Linked DNA regions of Homo sapiens: regions 1 and 3 are each linked to region 2. The links come from fine-mapping of genetic effects on gene expression. A gene starts in region 2. Each other region holds a variant in brackets. All regions are shown on one strand. Distances are between the middles of the regions.

The links. PIP is the estimated chance that this variant, and not a neighbour inherited with it, causes the effect. A credible set is the group of variants that fine-mapping cannot tell apart.
Region 1: its variant is the best candidate, but not a certain one, in a credible set for the expression of NAALAD2 in thyroid (GTEx, PIP 0.56).
Region 3: its variant is the best candidate, but not a certain one, in a credible set for the expression of NAALAD2 in putamen (GTEx, PIP 0.69).

The regions. Positions count from the first base shown.
Region 1 is chr11:90,086,752-90,090,997 of GRCh38, forward strand. It overlaps UBTFL1 (upstream binding transcription factor like 1), which reads left to right. Exons shown (of 1, transcript NM_001143975.1): 1 at 1-380. The coding sequence ends at 380. Among named protein-coding and RNA genes, the nearest start is that of UBTFL1, 2.9 kb to the left of the region's middle. The variant A/AT (reference allele first, on the strand shown) is at 1,803.
Region 2 is chr11:90,132,127-90,136,372 of GRCh38, forward strand. NAALAD2 (N-acetylated alpha-linked acidic dipeptidase 2) reads left to right here and starts at 2,537. Exons shown (of 19, transcript NM_005467.4): 1 at 2,537-2,714; 2 at 3,433-3,544. The coding sequence starts at 2,633. RefSeq lists an enhancer at 2,441-3,144.
Region 3 is chr11:90,108,221-90,112,466 of GRCh38, forward strand. No RefSeq gene overlaps it. Among named protein-coding and RNA genes, the nearest start is that of NAALAD2, 24 kb to the right of the region's middle. The variant A/C (reference allele first, on the strand shown) is at 1,763.

The DNA.
Region 1 (4,246 bases), 45 kb before region 2:
ATTTTAAGAGCCAGGCTGAGGAGCTGCAGAAGCAATACAAGGTGAAATTGGATCTCTGGCTCAAGACTTTGTCACCTGAAAATTATGCTGCATACAAAGAATCGACCTATGCTAAGGGTAAGAATATGGCCATGACAGGAGGCCCGGACCCCAGGTTGAAACAAGCAGATCCACAGTCCTCATCAGCAAAGGGTCTGCAAGAAGGGTTTGGGGAGGGGCAAGGGCTCCAGGCTGCAGGAACAGATTCATCACAGACTATTTGGGTAAACTGTCATGTCTCCATGGAACCAGAAGAGAACAGGAAGAAAGATAGAGAAAAGGAAGAAAGCAGTAACTCTTCAGACTGCAGCAGTGGAGAAGAAATAGAAGTTGATGTCTGAGGGCAGTGGCTCTAGTGCAGCTTCCTTGTTTTTTTTTTTTTGTTTGTTTGTTTTCTTTTCTTCCTTCCTCCCGCAAAGTAGGACAGGTTGGGAAGAAAGAAGCAACTTGGTGCAGCACTCTCCTACATCAAGATTATGAACCTGGGAGGAACTCTTTGGGAAGAATAAATATAAGTTTGAGCCAATACTGGCCTTATCCTTAAAAAAACAAACAAACAAATATCATCCCTTTCCCGAGGAACTTTATGCAATTAAGGCTTCTGAAATGAAGAGATGATTACGTTGTGGGGTACACACTGTATTAGACTGAATATTTCTGAAGCAAGAAGCTTTGCTTTACTCATTTTTGTCCTGCCAAAGGTGGTAGGGGGATACCCATAAGCCTGGGACCCAAACTTCCCTGTGGAAATGTTTTTCAGGACTCCTGCACTAAATCTAAGGTCGGGGATATTTGATGAAAGGTGGGGTAGGTGTCTTAAGAGAATTGTCCCACTCTTGATATCTCTCTCCTCCCCTCCCTGAAGTAAGGAGTTGGCCATTCCCATGCCTGGGAGTAGGGAGTAATATTTCTACATGTATATCTGACTCAGTTCTCAATTAGACTTTTCTTGCTTATTTCAAAAAAAAAATGAAAATACAAAATAAAAAGTTACTGATTTAATCTGAAAGAGCTCCTCCACAGAATCATTTGTGACACTGGGTGCAGCTTCTCTAAGTTATATCTTCATTTATTCTTGAAGCTCCAAATTTTTCCTGCTGCTTCAGGTGCAAGTGAATCTCACCTTTAGCATTCAGGATTGATACAAAGATGTAGAGAAAGACAGATATAGATGAGTACACTATCCTGTTTCACTATCTGCTCTATCTAAGAATTCATGCACCAGTGTCACATTGTTTTAATTTTTTGGTTTACTAATATGTTTGAAAATCTACCTAAAGTTAGTGCCTTCTCAGTATACCTTTATTCTATTAAACATTTCTGGCTATTTTCATACTTCGTTCTCATGAATATTAGCATCACAGAACTAGTTGTATTCTTTTTGTATAAAAACCATTGAATAATGAGTGTTTATTTTGTCCCTAGATATCTTAGGAAAATTTTACTTATAAGTTTTTTCTAAATAAATAATAAGTTTCAGAGAATAATGGCAATGTTTACCATTTTTATACCTCTAATTTCTAAATGTGTTGGATTAAAATATCCAGAAGAATGTTAAGTAACAACAATAATCTGTTCTTGGCTTGCTTCTGACTTTTAACCTAATGCTTACAGAATTTAAAATCATGAAAATTATGCTGATGTGTACATTTGAAATAAATTATTAAAAATAAGAAAATTGCTATTTACTTTTATTATTATTTGCTTTTAATTTTTAATGCATATCGATTTTTAACAAATTTATTTTATCATATATTTATGTA[A/AT]TTTTTTCTTACTGTATTAGTCATCATCCTGCAGAGAAACAGAACCACCAACATAGATAGAGAAACAAAGTGACAGAGAGAGTGATAGAATAGTAGAGAGGAGAGAGACAAAGAGACTAATTTTATTATGAAGAATTGGCTCACAAAATTGTGGAGGCAAAAAATATCATGATCTGCAATCTGCAAGCTGGACACTTAGGAAAGCCAGAGGTGTAATTCAATCTGAGTCTGAAGGCCTGGGAAGCAGGGCAGCCAATGGTGTAAACCCTAATTCAAGTGTAGGTGAAGATAAGACGAGATATACTAGTTAAGCAGTGAGACAGGACAGAAAGGGTCACACTCCTCTATCATCTGCCCTTTGTTCTATGCAGGCCTTAAATGGGTTGGATAATGCACATCCCATACTGGGGAGGGAAGCCTACTTTACAGAGACCAGTTCAAGCTGACACATACAATTTACCATCATACTTTCATTTTCTTACAGATTCTGGAGATTTAGGTATTTTTATACGAATTCTAGATGGCTGATGGGTTGAATTTTTTTTTTTTTTTTTGAGACAGAGTCTGGCTCTGTTGCCCAGGCTAGAGTGCAGTGGAGAGATCTCGGCTCACTGCAAGCTCCACCTCCCGGGTTCATGCCATTCTCCTGCCTCAGCCTCCCGAGTAGCTGGGACTACAGGCTCCCGCCACCACTCCTGACTAATTTTTTTTGTATTTTTATTAGAGACGGGGTTTCACCATTAGCCAGGATGGTCTCGATCTCCTGACCTTGTGATCCACCCGTCTTGGCGCTGGGATTACAGGCATGAGCCACCGAGCCCAGCCAATGGGTTGAACTTATTTAGAAAATGTGTTTGCATATTATGTCCTTTGTTTCTCTTAACATCAAGTTTGCAAAATTAACTTTAAAGATCTGATTCTTTTTATTTCCAATTCAGGAGATAATGTAAGTCACATTTGCCACTAACTAGTAGTAAGGCCCATAGCCCAGGCTAGATGGTGAGATGTACAAATTCAATTGGGGCTTTAGTAGTGATTTTAAATGAAATGTTTTTAAGTTTATTCAGCACCTACTCTTTTTAAGACTTGCCCTCCTTGTGTGGGATACAGAGATTAAAGGTACAATTCTTTTTTGTTTGTTTGTTTTTCATTTTTTTAATTATACTTTAAGTTTTAGGGTACATGTGCACAATGTGCAGGTTAGTTACATATGTATACATGTGCCATGCTGGTGCACTGCACCCAGTAACTCGTCATCTAGCATTAGGTATATCTCCCAATGCTATCCCTCCCCCCTCCCCCCACCCCACAACAGTCCCCACAGTGTGATATTCCCCTTCCTGTGTCCATGTGATCTCATTGTTCAATTCCCACCTATGAGTGAGAATATGTGGTGTTTGGTTTTTTGTTCTTGCGATAGTTTACTGAGAATGATGTTTTCCAATTTCATCCACGTCCCTACAAAGGACATGAACTCATCATTTTTTATGGCTGCATAGTATTCCATGGTGTATATGTGCCACATTTTCTTAATCCAGTCTATCATTGTTGGACATTTGGGTTGGTTCCAAGTCTTTGCTATTGTGAATAATGCCGCAATAAACATACGTGTGCGTGTGTCTTTATAGCAGCATGATTTATAGTCATTTGGGTATATACCCAGTAATGGGATGGCTGGGTCAAATGGTATTTCCAGTTCTAGATCCCTGAGGAATCGCCACACTGACTTCCACAATGGTTGAACTAGTTTACAGTCCCACCAACAGTGTAAAAGTGTTCCTATTTCTCCACATCCTCTCCAGCACCTGTTGTTTCCTGACTTTTTAATGATGGCCATTCTAACTGGTGTGAGATGGTATCTCATTGTGGTTTTGATTTGCATTTCTCTGATGGCCAGTGATGATGAGCATTTTTTCATGTGTTTTTTGGCTGCATAAATGTCTTCTTTTGAGAAGTGTCTGTTCATGTCCTTGGCCCACTTTTTGATGGGGTTGTTTGTTTTTTTCTTGTAAATTTGTTTGAGTTCATTGTAGATTCTGGATATTAGCCCTTTGTCAGATGAGTAGGTTGTGAAAATTTTCTCCCATTTTGTAGGTTGCCTGTTCACTCTGATGGTAGTTTCTTTTGCTGTGCAGAAGCTCTTTAGTTTAATTAGATCCCATTTGTCAATTTTGTCTTTTGTTGCCATTGCTTTTGGTGGTTTAGACATGAAGTCCTTGCCCATGCCTATGTCCTGAATGGTAATGCCTAGGTTTTCTGCCAGGGTTTTTATGGTTTTAGGTCTAACGTTTAAGTCTTTAGTCCATCTTGAATTGATTTTTGTATAAGGTGTAAGGAAGGGATCCAGTTTCAGCTTTCTACATATGGCTAGCCAGTTTTCCCAGCACCATTTATTAAATAGGGAATCCTTTCCCCATTGCTTGTTTTTCTCAGGTTTGTCAAAG
Region 2 (4,246 bases):
AGCCAGCTAACTGGGCTTTTTACAATGGCTTTTCAAGATTGCAGATGCCGCCTACAGAGACGACAGTCATATTTGAGGTAACATTGCTCATTCTTGGAACTCTTTAATCTAATTTTAATTTAGGGAGATTATTCAAACTGGCAAACTGTGTTAAATAATGCATTGATTTATTCTATTACTCAAACTTCAATTAGCAATAAAAAACACAAAATGAGCAAGAAAAAATAAATTTAATAAATAGCTTAGCAACTTTATTCATTAGTTTCTACCTTCTCTTTCTTCAGTAAATCTTTTCCTGGAGATAATTTTGATCTGCCTCTTGAGGGCTATGTAGTCAACAGTGAATGGTCCAATGGGTAGCAAATAGAAAAAGCCAAGAGTCTAAAAATTGACAAATTACACAATCAATACCCAAAATGTTTATATGTACAAAAATAACATTTGATATTGTTTGAGACCTTTGTGTGTCACCTGTTAAACACTGGAGAGTTATTAAAATCCCAGTATTATTTCATAATGTCACACATAAAAATAATTCTGAGTGCTCTTGGAAAATGTTTCTTAAGCCATATTTGAGGGGTTTAGTTACTTCACTGGATATTGAACCTTTTGAATAATTCTATTCTAATTCCCTATATTTGGTGTTGTGTGTATGCATATAAGGGGGAACAAACTCACTTTGTTATGAAAATGTTTTTTGAAAGATGTTTCTCTCTAAAATAAAAAACACTGGAGGAGTCAGTCAAGGAATGTCTAACAGGCTAGTAGCTGAAAAAGCTGAAGTTAGTTGGGACTTAAATTGCATGCAAACATTTAGAAATCAACAGTTCATTAAGGAGGTTTGCTTCAAAGTTAAGTACCAGGTATGCTACAAAAGTTTCAAGAAATAAGTTATTAGGCATACCTATCAACAATTATGTTCAATTGATAGCCATTGAAATACAAGGACAAAAAAAAGTTATGTCCCAGAAAAATAAATTTCACTCTTCCAGTCACTTGTTAGGAGCAAAGGTGCATTACCTAAAGCTATCAGGGCTGCAGACAATGCTGTGAAGTTTATCCTAGATATACTACCATCTTTGAAATCAACATAGCAGTTTTGCTTTGGCTGAAAAAACTACTTTTGGTTAGATACGTGAAGCCAATCATAAATTCCTAAAATTTTTCTCTGAGATGAGATGGTTGGATGAAGGCTATTTACAATGGCCACTATTTTGCAAACCCATCTTTAAAGAGAAATGCTTCATGAATGTAGCATGGTGAGGACAGGGGAATGACAGGGACCATTGCTAATGTAGGGGTCAATGGAAAGCTTCCCCTTCACCCTCTGAAGTTTTGCTGGAAAATCAACTCACAAAAGGCAGACTATTAGAAAAAAAAAAGGCTTACAAATTTATGAATAACATAGCATAAGGGAATCGTAGTAGAATGATTACCCAATAACCAATGAGGTACAGATGATAATATACCCATCTTTTTAGAGGAAAGGAAGATGAGAATGTGTGTATAATTTTAAGAGGGTAGTAAATGAATTTTAGGGAAATTCAATGGGCTTGAAGAATATGCAATGGCCTGGGACAAAGTCTGTTGGCCCTACAGGGCAGACGAGAGTTTGTAACAGAAGGCTGCCAGTTGTATTGACAGACTGCAGTCCTTCTTCCTGAGATATTAGTTCGGTTAATGAAAACTCAGGAAAGAAACTCTTTTTTTTTTTGTTTGTTTGTTTTTGCCTTTAGTAGTTCTGGACTTTAGGCAGATAAGGGAACTTTAGAGAACAGCTTTATTCTGTGCTATGGGAGAGACAAAGGATTGAGAGAGAGGAGCTGGAAGAGAGGGGTATGGTCAGAGAGACCCCCTGGCTTCTTCGGTTTAGCATGTCAAAGCACCATATTTTGGGAAATTGGTGTCTGAGCTTTAGCATTAAGAACAGACTCTCAGTAACTACTGGCAGTGCAAGGTCCTTTCAGTGATTACTTTTACTAATGTGAACCTAAAACATTCCAGTGAGGTAGGTAAAAACCTCAGTTAAATGAGTGGAAACAGAATTACAGAAATGTGGAGTTTTGTTTAAGTAAAGGGGAACAAAAAAACGCAATCCCATCGATTTTGATGCTGACAGTGATTGCGGTATTAGTGATGTTAACAGCTTTAACAGCGGAGCACCCAGGACCAGAAATCATTTCCGAGTCTGACGAGTGGGAAATTACAGCAGAGAATCTGGAAGAAGAATAACCAATAGATCAGGAAAAGCAATACTTAAATTCACTTCTGAGCCGAAACTGGGCATTTTGGGGGATGGGCATGGCAAACAGCAGTAGAGTTCTTTAGGAAAAAATTAGGGACGTTTTCAGCAGCTCCCGCCACCTACTATGTCCGGGTTACTGCGGGATCCACAGAATGGAAGTTGCCCGCCAACAGGAAGAATGTCTCCTCCCTCTGCAGGGCTTCCTTTCCCCCATCGAGGGCCCCTGGGGACCACAGGTCCCCAGCGGGTAGGGCGGAGGCGTGGCCTTGCGAAGGTCAGCGGAGGCCACCCAGAGCTCACAGCCTCCTGCCAGCGCGCTCTCTGTTTCTCTGCAGCCCCGAAGCTCGCGAATGTAGCAGGCGCCCCAAGCTCGGTCCTCAAGAAGCCATGGCGGAATCCAGGGGCCGTCTGTACCTTTGGATGTGCTTGGCTGCTGCGCTGGCATCTTTCCTGATGGGATTTATGGTGGGTAAGTGAACAAAACACTCTACCCCGACTCCGGGGCTCGTGATTCTCTGCAGAGATAAAGGGAGAAATCCTGGAGCTGGAAGGGATTGGGCTGTGCGCTAGCCCTGGCCGGCTGGGCTAGATATGATAAACTCTGCACATTTCAGCAAAACTAGAAACCAGATGGAATGTATTTTGGGCTTGCTAATAGATAAAGTGTGCTTGAAATTCAAATTTATTAAATGTTCACTGAGTTCACTAAAGACAACCTACAGCTGTCACTGTCTGCAGGGATGAAAAAAAATCGTTTTATTTCCAAGCAACATTAGTGAGTCAAAACTTTCAACTAATACGGGCAGCATTAAAAACAAAGCAAAACGAAACAAAGCAAAACAAAACCCTGCTCTATACGTAAATAAATATTTGTGGAATGTTCCCTATGTGTCAGGGACTAGAGATCCAGGGAAGAACAACAAAAGCCATGCCTTCATGCATAACGTGAGAAAATGAAAGAGCTTCTCTTAAATAAAACTCCTTTTAAGCATCTAAAAATTATATTACATATCAGAATTTACAGGTTTTCTGCATTTAATATAAACATTATTTTTTAAAGCTCACCATGATCTACTTGTCAGATAAAGGCTTTTTGGGGGGAAGGACAGAGGGGTGGCTTCTAGTTTTAATAAAGTCAAAGTGATTTTGTGTGTATGTGTGCATGTTTGTGTATTTTTTTTCCTTAGGCTGGTTTATTAAGCCTCTCAAAGAAACGACCACTTCTGTGCGCTATCATCAAAGTATACGGTGGAAACTGGTATCCGAAATGAAAGCTGAAAACATCAAATCATTTCTTCGGTAAGTTTATTTTACGTATTTGATCTTAAAAATCATGTTTAAAATATCACAGTGAGAAGCATATTATACCTGGTTATATGCATGAGGACAGTCTTCTCTGTGTGAAATTACATATTAGTCATCAACTTTTTTTTTTTTTTTAATGTCTCTTTACACCAGTCTTGGGGTGAAAAAGTAGGTCTTTCTTCCCTAACTTTATGTAACAAAAAGTATCTGGTTGGCTTATTGAGAGATGTTTCAACTTCATGTAACTTTGGATCTAACTGAATGTTATTCTTTGTTCATCAGTGCCTGGGTTTTAATCAGCAATTTTCTTAGATACCATATTCTGTCAGGGAAAGTTAGATGATGGTTGACTAAGTGATTTAGTGGAAAAGTGATCAAAGTGTCTGATTCTGTCTGCCAAAAGTTAAACCTTTATCCCATCTTGCAGGTATAAATTTGTTTTTTACAAATAAGACAAAATGAAACCAAAAAGAATCATTGCCATTCCTCCAGCTTCTAACCATGAAAAACAGTGGAAATTGGGGGAGTGATCATAAACTCCTTAAGAACAATGGCCATGGTATTTATTTCTGTATTCAGACTCTTTCAAATGGGTGTTATTTTTTAAAATCAGCTTTAGTGAAGTATAATTTACATAAAATAAACTGCATCCCTATAAAGCCTACAATTTGAGAGTTATGACAGACGTATGCTATG
Region 3 (4,246 bases), 24 kb before region 2:
GTGGTTGGCACTTCACTTTGTTGATTATTTCCTTTGCTTGAGGCTTTTTAGCTTGATATAATCCCATTGTCTATTTTTGCCTTTGTTGCCTGTGCTTCTGAGGTCTTACGCAAAAAAATCTGCCCGGACCAATGTCCTGGAGCATTTCTCCTATGCTTTCTTTTAGTAACTTCATAGTTTCAGGTCTTAGATTCAAGTCTTTAATCTATTTTTATTCGATTTGATTTTTGTATATGGTAAGAGGGGTTTAATTTTATCCTTCTTCATTTAGTTATTCAGTTTTCCCAGGATTATTTATTGAAAAGACTGTTCTTTGCCCAGTGTATGTTCTTGATGCCTTTGTCAGAGATGAGTTGTTTGTAAATGTGTAGATTTATGTCTGAGATCTCCATTCTGCTCCATTGTCCTGTGTGTCTGTTTTTATGCCAGTAGAAATATATTGGCAATAATTAGTACAGAAAAGCTGAAACAATGAAATGACAAAAGTGAATTATATTGATATAATTCATTATGCTCACTAAATGCAATAGCATGCAGCTAGGAAAAACAATGTAGTGCACACAGTATTAAAATAAAACACAATTCAATATACACAGTGCTCACAGTGGCCATCATTAGAGTGTTGAAGAAGGGGATGTAGTCAGCAAAAGTTGTACAGGTGACTTCAAAAGTAATCATAAGCACTTATGATTACTTTTGGCTTAATTTCTTAAACCAAGACTGGAGACACAAGTGTTCATTGTGTGCTTATTCTATATATATATTATAAATATTTTATAAATATATTGTTTCTATTCAGTATTTAATAAAGTAAATCAATAGAAAAGGTTAAAAAGCAATGCATACATATTTCAAATATTTTTTTGCTCCAAATTATATAAGCATTGCATAGTTATTGCCCTGGGCCAGGTAAGGTGGCTCACACCTGTAATCCTAGCACTTTAGGAGGCTGAGGCAGGAAGAGAGCTTCAGCCCCAGAGGTCAAGGCTGCAGTGAGCCGTAATTGCACTACTGCACTCCAGCCTAGGTGACAGAGCAAGACGCTGTCTCAAGATAAAAATAAAAATAAGTTAATAAATAAATAAATATATGTGTATATATTAACTGATTTTATTAAGTATATATATAGTTAATATATATAACTATACATATATGTAGTTACTGTCTTGGTCTATAGTCAATCTTACAGTGCTTAAGACATTGATACTGAGAACAGTTCTCCTAGGTATATGCTGTGTTTCTGGGGTGACATGATGCTCTCATCAGGCCTCTGTGAGCCTAATTCTATCTTACATTTACCCCACTCTTCAACAACAACTTGGGAAGGTGTCCCTAAATGTTCCTAGGTGAACCCAAACCTGTGGCCCTCAACACGTTTCTAGGTAAAGCAAGCTCCTGACATATCTGTGGATATCCTCTCATTAGAAGAAGGGGGAAGAGACCATCTCAAAGAAATTCATTTAATATAGCTTTTCAGCATTAATTTTATTTTGACAAAGAGACACAAAGTAAATAAAATTTCTAAAAAACTATAAACTTTCAAGCATTTTCACACTAAGTCTAGCCCTGCTCACATGCCAGGGAATTATAAAGGTGATCTGTTTCTCAACCTGACCAAGATGCTATAGTAATTAAAAATAAACTCAATCCCTGGATCTCTACCAAAGGGTCTTTTCATATGGATCAAAGTGTATCTACTCATCACATTCTGGAAAAATTATTTGTCTGGAAATAGACAAATTATCCAAAATATAATAGAAAT[A/C]ACAGCCTCTGGAAAGGGCCAAATAAGACTCTTAATGATACAACAGCTAAATCTAGGTCTGATGCTTATTCTGTGTGGACAACAATAGCAGAGCTAATGGCTGATTTGTGGGAAGTAAACATTATGTTTGCAGAATCGTACACGATTTCAGTAGAAGGGCAAGGAAATTTCAGTTGGGAACAGATTGCTCCATGGTAATGTGATCACTATGTACCCAACAATGGCTCTTTCTTCCTAGCGTCAATGCAGATGTTGTTTTATCCTTAACTGTTATCATTTCTGTTTCTAATCACATAAAAGTGTATCCGTTACATATCTGAAGTAAATTCATACTAGTGGTGTAACATCTCCAGCCATTTAAGTGTAAAAAGAGAAAACGTATGATGTGTTTACTCACTGTTTTATACTCTGTAACGCATGAAGATCCTTTTATTCATTGCCTGTACTTTTATTTTTAAACTTTCTGAAACACTTTATGTTATATCCAGCATAGAACTGAGTTTTCCTTTTTGATTTAATCTGACAATATTTTTTTCCTCTAATAAGAGAGTCAAGCCCACTTACTTTTATTGGTAAATTCTGTTTGGTTATATTTTGGTTACAGCATGTTATGCTATGATCTATATGCACGTATCTTCTTTTGCTGCCTTGTTTGTTTTTATTGATTTTGTTTTGATGTTGTGATATTTGGAAGAGTTAAATTTTTATTCTGATGGCTACCTTATGTAACTTCATAAAATCATCTCTTTCTTTAGACAGTAGCTAATGTCTCTAAACTAAGAACAATGGTATTAACTCTTTCTTGTCTTCCCTATGTGATCTTTCATCTCCCAATTTGATATAATAATATTAACTTTGTTTCCCCTGATGCCATTAAGTATGCCTACATTTCTATAAACAGTATCCTTTGACTCCCAGGCATTACAGACGAGCAGTCAGTAAAATCATTCTGCAGAATACCTTCTTTTTCCTTTTCTTCTATTTTTCTTAGTTGTATCATTTCTATATTGCCAGAGCACCTACAGTTGCATTTCTTTCTGTCAGCTTTATCCAGCATTTGTTTTTGTCTTTTATTTGAAGTTAAATATATTCCTTGCTCACTACGACACTGGGGAGAGGAAGGTTTTTGTTGTCATTGTTGTGCTTGTACAGTTGCTTATTTAAAAACATTGGCAAAAACAAACAAAAAATGTATGTAGATGGAATGGAGATAAGACAGAAAATGAGAGAGATTGATGATGAGTGTGCTTATTCTAGACTGGGAGGGGTGCTGCACTGAGTAGTGTCTCAAGGCTGCAGGAAAGGATGGTTGATTGTGAGCAGGTGGAGTTTCCACTGAAGGAGAGAAGTCCTGCCTTCAACAACCTGTGCAGAACCAGGAACTGGTAATGGTTCAAATCAACTTACAGACCTGGAGGTAGAAATTTAAGAAAGCTCGTTTAGCACCTAGTTTCCTAGAAAATATTAGCTACTATTTGCTGAGCATCTGTCAGTCTGTCTGCAGCATGGAAGATCTGAGTACAGGGGAGACTGGATTAGTAACAGTGGGTCAGAAAATTATATAATATTCAACCAAAATTCCTGCTTTACATAGACGGCACCTGGTATTTCCAGAACTAGAAGGTAAAGAAATTATTTGTGCTTGAACTTGCAGAAAACTGCCTTTTCCCTTCTTCTCTTGCATCTTAACCTGGAGCTTCTCTTTTCTTGAGCCTCAGTGTCCTTCCCAACTCAATTTATAATTGACTTCCTGCAGTTTCTCCTTAGGACAGGGCTTTGTTTTGGGGGTGGTTAATTTGTAGGGTTCATAGGATACAGACCACTCACAGCACTGCTTTTTGCCATCCTCACTCTCAGCTGTGAGTTGAGGCCCAGGAAGCCTTCTGCCAGCCTCAGCTGCTGTTCTCAGATTAATCTGCTAAGTTCTTTTTGCCTAGTAGGAATCTCTGAATTTAGGAACATAGATGTTAGCAATTGTATTTCTAGTTTTTCCAGTTCCCAGGGCCATTAAAGATTTTTTTCCTTTCCTTTCCTTCTTCCAAAACAGTTGGTGATTCCCCTGGGTCTCTGTGGTTTAACCTCACAAAAGGTTCATGATGACACCCTGTTACATTGTTTTGTCATAGTTAATACCTTGTTATCCCAGTTGCTCAGTCAATTTTTGTGAGAGATTCAGGGATATTAATAAAACTGTGCTGCTGCTACTAGCATCTTGCATAAAAGCCCTATGAATTAAAATGTTTATTTTACGTGTGATTTGAACTTGTAATTTTTATTCAAAGTTTTTCAACAGAGATCCAGAGAAGACCCTCTTTATATTTGTAGTTTTGTGCATTGCAACACTTTTTAGTGAAAAAAAAAAAAACATGAGAACAACACAAGTGATTTTAAAAGAATAAACCTACAATCCATTAATTATAAAATGAAATACTGTGCAGGTGTTAAGAATGAGGGAATCAATAAGAACTTGTGTTGGGTAACTAT